Regions from separate parts of the Homo sapiens genome. Here all the other regions are linked to region 2. Evidence: fine-mapped expression QTL. A gene starts in region 2. Each other region holds a variant in brackets. All regions are shown on one strand. Distances are between the middles of the regions.

Evidence for each region.
Region 1: its variant is fine-mapped to the expression of CPAMD8 in fibroblasts (GTEx, PIP 0.99).
Region 3: its variant is fine-mapped to the expression of CPAMD8 in whole blood (TOPMed, PIP above 0.99). The same link has a PIP of 0.9 or more in T cells.

What each region holds. Positions count from the first base shown.
Region 1 is chr19:16,894,870-16,897,617 of GRCh38, forward strand. It overlaps CPAMD8 (C3 and PZP like alpha-2-macroglobulin domain containing 8), which reads right to left. Exons shown (of 42, transcript NM_015692.5): 40 at 1,587-1,796; 41 at 1,307-1,457. Among named protein-coding and RNA genes, the nearest start is that of F2RL3, 7.2 kb to the left of the region's middle. RefSeq lists silencers at 1,977-2,056, 2,107-2,326, 2,397-2,748. The variant C/T (reference allele first, on the strand shown) is at 1,683.
Region 2 is chr19:17,025,530-17,028,277 of GRCh38, forward strand. It overlaps CPAMD8 (C3 and PZP like alpha-2-macroglobulin domain containing 8), which reads right to left and starts at 1,281. Exons shown (of 42, transcript NM_015692.5): 1 at 1,022-1,281. The coding sequence starts at 1,113. RefSeq lists an enhancer at 1,453-2,361.
Region 3 is chr19:17,000,674-17,003,421 of GRCh38, forward strand. CPAMD8 (C3 and PZP like alpha-2-macroglobulin domain containing 8) reads right to left here. Exons shown (of 42, transcript NM_015692.5): 9 at 1,593-1,677. Among named protein-coding and RNA genes, the nearest start is that of CPAMD8, 25 kb to the right of the region's middle. The variant A/G (reference allele first, on the strand shown) is at 1,302.

The DNA of each region.
Region 1 (2,748 bases), 130 kb before region 2:
GAACAGCCATGGCACTCCAGCTTGGGCAACATACAGAGACCCCATCTCTACAACACACACACACACACACACACACACACACACACACACACTAGCTGGGCGTGGTGGTAGTGTGTGCCTGTGGTCCCAGCTACTCAGGAGGCTGAGGCAAGAGGATCACTTGAGCTCAGGAGGTCAAGGCTGCAGTGAGCCATGACCACGCCACTACACTCCAGCCTGGGCAACACAGTGAGACCTCGTTTGAAAAATAAAAGAATAGGCCTGGCATGGTGGCTCATGCCTGCAATACCAGCGCTTTGGGAGGCCAACGCGGGTGGATCACCTGAGGTCAAGAGTTCAAGACCAGCCTGGCCAACATGGTGAAACCCCACCTCTACTAAAAATACAAAAAAAATTAGCCGGGCATGGTGGCGGGCCCCTGTAATCCCAGCTTCTGGGGAGGCTGAGACAGGAGAATCGCTTGAACCCAGGAGGCGGAGATTGCAGTGAGCCCAGATTAAAAAAAGAATAAACTATGGATACACGAAACAACACAGGTGAATGCAAGGGAATCATGCTCCAAAGATTATCCGCTCTGATTCCATTTACCTGGCATTCTCAAAATAACAAAATTACAGACGGGTAGGGGGAAAATGGCTTAGTGGTTGCAGGTGTTGAGGGGAGAGATGAAGTTATGGAAGAGCAGCTGGAAGGATCCTGTGCAGATGGGCTGTTTGTTGACTATGGTTGAGATTACACAAATCTGCCCATGAGGAAACCGCACACTGTTAACTACAGGCAAAACTTCCCTAGTCCAAAAATCCTAAATCTGAAATGTTCCAAAATCCAAGTCTTTTTGAGCAGCGACTTGACGTGCTCAAAGGCAATGCTCATTGGGGCATTTCAGATTTTTAGATTAGGGATGCTGAACCTTAGCTAACTATATAATGCAAGCATTCTGAAATGTGAAAAAATCTGAAATCCGAAACACTGCTGGTCCCCCCAGCATTTCGGATAAGGGATCCTTGACCCGTATGCGCGCGCGCGCGCGCACGCACACACACACACACACACACACACGCGCGCGTGCGCCCGCGCACAGCTGTTCGCTGGTGGGTGTTGCGTGGGCCAGGGTGGAGGGAGGATGAATGTCCCACTTTGTCCCCAGGAACTCTGAGCCTCTGACCCTGAGTCACTCCCACTGCCAGTGGGGGGTCGGGGCGGGGCGGAGGAGTCGGGGCAGGTCGTCGGGGGAGGTTGGTAGGGGAGGGAGGTGGGGAGATATTGAGCCTATGTCTCTTATCTCTGGGGTGGGCCCAGCTGTTACCTGTCCTCCGCCTCCCCTTCAGGCTCAGGGTCTGAGTCCTCCACCTCAAGGCCGGCTCCATTCAGCTTCACGTCCTGCTGTAAAGGCCCCGGGGCCACAGAAGCCAGGTCATCCCCGTAGGTGGAGGACGACGAGGCCGGCAGCCGCTGCTCTGGAAGGAAGGGGGCCTCGGTCGGGAGGGCGTGGCGGGGAGGGGACCCAAGGGCCGAGGGGAGGAGATCCGTGGCCCAGAGCAGCAGCGATGGTGTCCCCGAGGCTAGGCGGGGGGTAGGGTCCTCACCGAGGGCGCAGCAGCTGGGAGGCGCGGGCTCCAGGGGCGCGGCCTGGCGGCAGGCGGCCTCCCGCAGGCGGCAGGCGCTGGCGTAGACCACCCCGT[C/T]GGAGCCGCACACCGGGTTCCCCTGGGCGCCGCAGTCGTGGTCGCAGCCGCATCGCGCGATCGCCGCCCCCTCCTCAGGGGCCACGGCAGGGCCCGACTCGCCGGGGAACCAGCCTGGGGGACGAGGCAGGCTCGACAGACCCCCCACCCTGAACCTTGCCCGCGCCCCCACAGAACCTGGGGGTGGGGAAGATGTCCCTGGGTCCCGGGCCCACTACCCCCTCGGTGGGTCTTGGGGCGCGACAGTTAATGGGAGGTCCTGAGCCCTGGCCTTATGGAATTTCACGCAGGTATTTGCCTAATACTTACAAAAACAGAAACAGACTTTTAAAAAGCGGTTGTAGGAGAGAAAGGAGACAGGGCGTCCTGTCTGGGCCGCCCTGCAACAACAGCCCCGTCCCCTGCCGCGCCTCCTCCGCACTGACCACACCCACCCCAACCCCACCCCCACCGCACTGACCGCTCCTATCCTCAACCCCGCCCCCTCCGCGGTGACCACACCTACCCTCAACCCCGCCCCCTCCGTCCTGACCACTCTTAACCCCGCCCCCTCCGCACTGACCACACCCACCACAAATCCCGCCCCTCAGCGCTGACCGCACCCACCCTCGACCCCGCCCCCCGCACTGACCACACCCACCGCAACCTCATCCCCTCAGCACTAACCACATCCACTCTCAACCCCGTCCCCTTCGCACTGACCACACCCACCCCGTTCGGCCCCGCCCCCCGCACTGAACACACCCGCCCTCAACCCCGCACCCTCCGCACTCACCTCCCCCTCGCCGCTCGACCCCGCCCTCACCACACTGACCACCCTCAACCCATTGCGCCCAGTCCCCACCACAGTGACCACACCCTCACTGGCTCGGCCCTGCCCCCAGTATACTGACCATTCCCCAGCCACTTCCCTTCCGCACTTACCACTCCCCCAGCCACGCCCCTCCCCGCTGACCGCTCCTCCAGCCCCGCCTCCCCCGTACAGGCAGAGCGCCCGCCCACCTCTATGCTGCGTTCTCCTGACTTTACGTTGGCCCCTCCTCTGCCAAGCCCCCAGGGGAGCCCT
Region 2 (2,748 bases):
GTGGAAGCTGACCTGCACATCGAAAGCTGTTTACCAGCATTCCTGGCCTGCACCCACTTAATGCCAACACCAAATGCCTCTCCCTATTTGTGACAACCAAAAATACCTCCAGACATTTCCCAGCGGCCTCAGGGAGACAAAAATCCCCCCCAGGGCTGAGAACCACTATTCTAAGGGATGCCAGCTTTGAAAGAAGCATTAGGATGAAAATTTGTAGGGTTCCGATTTCACGAAGCCTAGGAGAGGGAAGTCTGGATGCTCAGAGCGCAGTAGACTGTCTTGCTTTTAAAACTGTGACCAGCAAGGACCAACTACTCACTGCAAATAACGACACCCACCTAGTCTCACTGCTTACCAGTTTTCTGGAAACTCCTAAACAAGGGCTGCTTGAACAAGCCGCCTTCTAAACGCCCAGCTGGACTAAAAGGCTGGTCTTGTGCAGACCAGGGCAGCCCCCCTGAACCCGCAGCCCTGCAGAGCTCACCCGAACTTGCCAGGTTTAGAAATATTCTCTGTGAAGCCAACTTAGCAGTACTCCCCAGCAGTTAGTTAATTCACCTTCTCCCCGCTGTCAACCCACCAGAAGCCTGCAAGCAAACCTCTAGAAAAATGTAGAAGCAAAACAAACACTTCCTCCTCCCTCACCACGCCCACCCACGGGAAAGTGCCCCTTCGCACTCTCCTCCCACTTCTCAGCCAAGACGCTCCTCTTACCTTCATACCTTGGACAACTGGAAATCGCCACCCATGATGACAGCCCGGGTCACACGAAGGGGGCGAGGTGGGGCGGGGGGAGCTGACCTCAGCACCTTTAGCTTTTGGGAGTCCCTGTACCTCCACAGAGCCACTTCGGAAACTTTAGGGCGCCCCCTCCTCAAGACGATTCGGGAACAAGAGGCCAGGTCCAGCCCAGCGCGGAGGCTGTGTGGCCTTGGGCAGGTCGCTGCAACACTCTGAGCCAGTACCCGCGACCCCCACCCCAGAAGGCGACCGACCTCCTCTGTCGCCGGAGGATACTCACGGGGCCTGAGGCTGCGCGGCGCGCACGCCGTCCCGCGCCGACAGCAGCAGGAGCAGGAGCGGGAGCAACGGCCAGAGCAGGGCGCCGCTCATTTTTCGGCTCCTGGGGGGCGCCGCGCCTGGGGAGGGGGCCGGGCCAGGGCTGGGCCAGGGCCAGGGTCCGAGCGCGGCCGTCCTCGCGCCGCCGCCGGGGGCCCTTTGTTCGCAGCCCCCGCGCAGTGCGCCCGGCGCCATGCGCCCCGCTCCGCGCCCGGCCAAGCTGGGGCAGCCCCGGGCCAGCCCCCTCCCCGGACCCGCCTCGTCTCCGGGACCGCCCCGCTCGCCCCGCTCGCCCCGCTCCTGGGCGCACCCTCCCGGGACGCCTGCTCCGCCCATCTCCGGACCCCGACCCGCCCCGATCCCTTCCGGGGATCGTCCCCTCACTTACTCACCGGACCCACCCGGGCCCTGCCCGATTCCTTCCGAACCCGCCTCCTCACCCCCTACCCGGATTCGCCCCCGGATGCCCCCCTCCCCACCAGCCCCGCCTCGGACCCGACCCCCCACCGCCCCCACTCTCCCTCTCCTCTCCACCCAGCGTCCACTCGGAACCTGTCCCTTCCCTGGCCTCTCCCTCCCTCCCTCCCCAGCCAGCCCCTTATGGCCCCCTCCCCGGGCCCGCCCCTCACCAGGGGCCCCTGGGTCTGGACGCCGCCTGCAACCCCGATCCCACAGGCGCCGCCGTGCCCTAAGCCCTGGCCTGTATCTAGTGCCCAGTGCAGTGCGTACAGCCCAAGGAGCAGAGGACCCTTTGGGGAAACAGTCTAGCCAGGGGTCGAACCTCCCAGACTCACATCTGCCCCAGGTCCCTATCTGTGCTCTCTGCTCCCCTCTCCCCCACCCCCACTGTCCACAAATCCCTTGGGCCCGTCCCCTCTCTCGCTGGGCCTCAGAGTCCCCCTTTCCCCTTCATACAGCAGGGGTGGATGGGCACCCCCTTTCTCTCCAAGAGCAGGGTGTCCCCTCCTGCCCCTCCCCGTGTGGCCACCTCAGTGATGGTCCTGCTGTCCTAGGTCCCACTGGCAGGCGGCACATCCTATACCATGTCCAAGTCCTGGACCCCCTCCTTCCAGTGTGGAACCCCCTTCCCCCAGCTACCAACTGCCCTTCTTCTAAAATTCCAGTGCTGACCACACCCCCTCCTGCCCGGAATCCTCGGGGCTCCCTGTTTATTTTACATTTTATTTTTATGTTTTGAGACCAGAGTTTTGCTCTGTTGCCCAGGCAGGAATTTAGTGGTGCAGTCACAGCTCACTGCAGCTTCAGACTCCTGGAGAGTAGCTGGGACTACAGGTGCAAGCCCGCACCCAGCTAATTTTTATATATTTTTTTTTAGAAACGGAGTCGCACTGTGTTGCCCAGGCTGGTCTTGAGCACTGGGCTCAAATGATCCTCCCTCCTCAGCCTCCCAAAGTGCTGGGATTACAGGTGTGAGCCACCACATCCAGCCAGGGCTTCCCGTTTATTGAGACCAAATCTAAACTCTGGCTTTGATGGCAGAGACCTCAGCCTAGTTCCTCCAACACCCTGTTCTTACTCCACTGCCTGCTTCTGCCTAATCTCTGTCTTCCTCTACCTGCCTCCTTTGCCAGTCCAACTCCTGATCCTTCCAGGAAACTCAAGGGAAGCTTCTCTTGCCCCCTCCCTGCCCCTAGGGATGTGGGTCCTCTGGGGGCTTCTCAGCCCTGT
Region 3 (2,748 bases), 25 kb before region 2:
CTGCAGCCTGGAATCGGGACAGAAGATGCCAAGGCCCTCCGATCCTCTGCACCAAGCCTCCAGATGGACAGAAAAAGAGACCAAGGGTCAGAGAGGAACTCTGGAACTGAGAAGGCTAGGTTGGTGCCACCTCTGGAGCAGAGTAGTGCAGAGGCATGAGCGACTGAGAGGCACCTGAGCCTAAGCGCCCTATTAAGCTCGACTTTGAACCAAGGACCGAACTTCTCTGAGCCTGTTTCCTCACCCAGAGAATGGGACTCAAACTACCCTCTCAGGGGTGATAGTGAAACTTAAATGTCTGTATGTCACTCCTGATGCAGAGGGAATGCTGGTGGATGGGGAACAGGAGCAAAATGAGAGAGTGCAGGCTGGGCATGGTGGCTTATGCCTGTAATCCCAGCACTTTGGGAGGCCAAGGTGGGCAGATCACTTGAGGTCAGGAGTTCGAGACCAGCCTGGCCAACATGGTGAAACTCTGTCTCTACTAAAAATACAAAAATTAGTTGGGTGTGGTGGCACATGCTTGTGATCCCAGCTACTAGGAGAAGCTGAGGCAGGAGAATCAATTGAGCCCGGTAGGCAGAGGTTGCAGAGAGCTGAGACTGTCACTACACTCCAGCCTGGGCGACAGAGTAAGACTCCGTCTGAAAAAAAAAAAAAAAAAAAAAAAACAAGGATCAACCCCTCTCGGGTCAGCACACTGGCGGGGGTGCTGTTGGATGCCAGGGAGGCCTGCAGAGGGCGGGGAGCAGCCTTGGGGGAGAGGGGAACATGGTGGGGTTGGGAGGGTCACACCCTGGGGGGTAGGGCATTCTTTGGGGAGGGGAGACCCTTGGGGAGGGAAGAACTTAGAGTGGAAGGGCAGGACTTGAGGAAGGAATACACAGCGGGAGAGGGGCATGCTTTGGAGAGACAGGGGCGTGCTCATAGGGGTGAGGACACCAGCATGGAAACAAAGACAGGCAGTGGGTAGAGTGCAAGAGACTCATGTGGCAGGGAGACACCGAGTACTAGGGAGGGAGCGGGGCACAGGGCACCCTTGTGGGAGCAGGGAGGCCATGGAAGAAGTGTCTGCCTGTAGGAGGAGGGGGAAGCCCGGTTGTTGGGGGAGATGGAAGGGGAGGGCAGAGGAGGGGCCCAGGGGGAGGAAGATGCTCTAGGGAAAGGGGTACACTCCAGGGAGGGGGTGCCCCCAGGGGAGGGGCACGGGAAAGGATGATGCTCTAGCGGGTGGCCACATCCTGGGGAGGGGAACCCACAGGGGAGGAGCCCAGCAGGGAGGGAGATACTTTAGAGGGAGG[A/G]GGACACCCCAGGGAGGAGGCGCCCACAGGGGAGGAGCCTGGTGGGGAGGGAGATACTCTAGGGGGAGGGGCACCTCCTGAGGAGGGGGCGCCTACTGGAGAGAGTCACAGGAAGGGAGATGCACTAGGGGAGGGGCACACCCCAGGGAGGAGGGAACCAGGAAGGGAGGGGCACACCCATGTGGGAGGGAGGGAGGCAGCAGAGGAGGGGAACGACCTTGAGGGAGCAGCGTGATGGTTGGGGAAGGGGAAGGGCCCCCCCAGTGTGCCCCAGGGGTCCCTCTTTCTCACCTGGCCCGCACAGTGCCTGTCTCACAGGCGTCCAGGTCTTGGATATACCGGGGCGGGTCAATCAGAAGCTCAAACTTGGGCAACACTGAAGAAAGCAAGCAGAGAGGAGGGGCTGGCTTCTGTCCCTAAGGTGGCCTCAGGAGCCCTGACACCGGTGCAAGGTGTCTGAGGACCACAGCACCTGGCCACCACCGAGGTTGACACTGTACCCATCCACACCACTCTGCTGAGCAGCCCTGGGGATTTTGTGGGCTGCATCTATTTCTCATCTTTGGGGGACTAGGACCCCATTTTCCTCAAGGGGCCTCCCCTGTCACTTTTAGACCACGTGCTTAGAGTGTGGCGGATTCCAGCCTATCCCAGGGTGGACACGAGGCCAGGAGGCTCCTCCTAGCCCCTGTGTCTGTGCATGGGATAGAGGTGGCCCTGGGAGCCAACAAGGGGCATCCCCAGGGTGACTGCAACAGAGAGCTGATTTCTCCATTTGCTTCTGGACTCAGCCCTGGGAGTATCAAGCCATCTTGTCACCAGGGGCGGAGGTGACACCCTGGAGCAGCCGGTAAACCAGAAAGAATCGGGTCCTGAGAGAACTCTTGTAGGAGCCTAAGAATCTTTTCGTTCTTTCTTTTCTTTTCTTTTCTTTTCTTTTTTTTTTTGAGACAGATTGTCACTGTGTTTCCCAGGTTGGTGTGCAGTGGCACGATCTTGGCTCACTGCAACCTCCTCCTCCTGGTTCAAGCAATTCTCCTGCCTCAGCCTCCCAAGTAGCTGGGACTGCAGGCACATGCCACCACGCCTGGCTAATTTTTGTATTTTTAGTAGAGATGGGGTTTCACCATGTTGGCCAGCCTGGTCTTGAACTCCTGACCTCTAGTGATCTACCCACCTCAGCCTCCCAAAGTGCTGGGATTACAGACGTTAGCTGCCATGCCTGGCCACCTTTTTTTTTTTCTGAGACAGGGTCTCACTTTGTCACCCAAACTGGAGAATAGTGGTGCAATCACAGTTCACTGCAGCCTTGATCTCCTGGGCTCAAGCAATCCTCCCGCCTCAGCTTCCCGAGTAGCGGGGACTACAGGCACGTGCCACCATGTCCAGATAATTGTTTTAAAGTTTTATACAGACAGGGACTATGTTGTCCAGGCTGGTCTCAAAC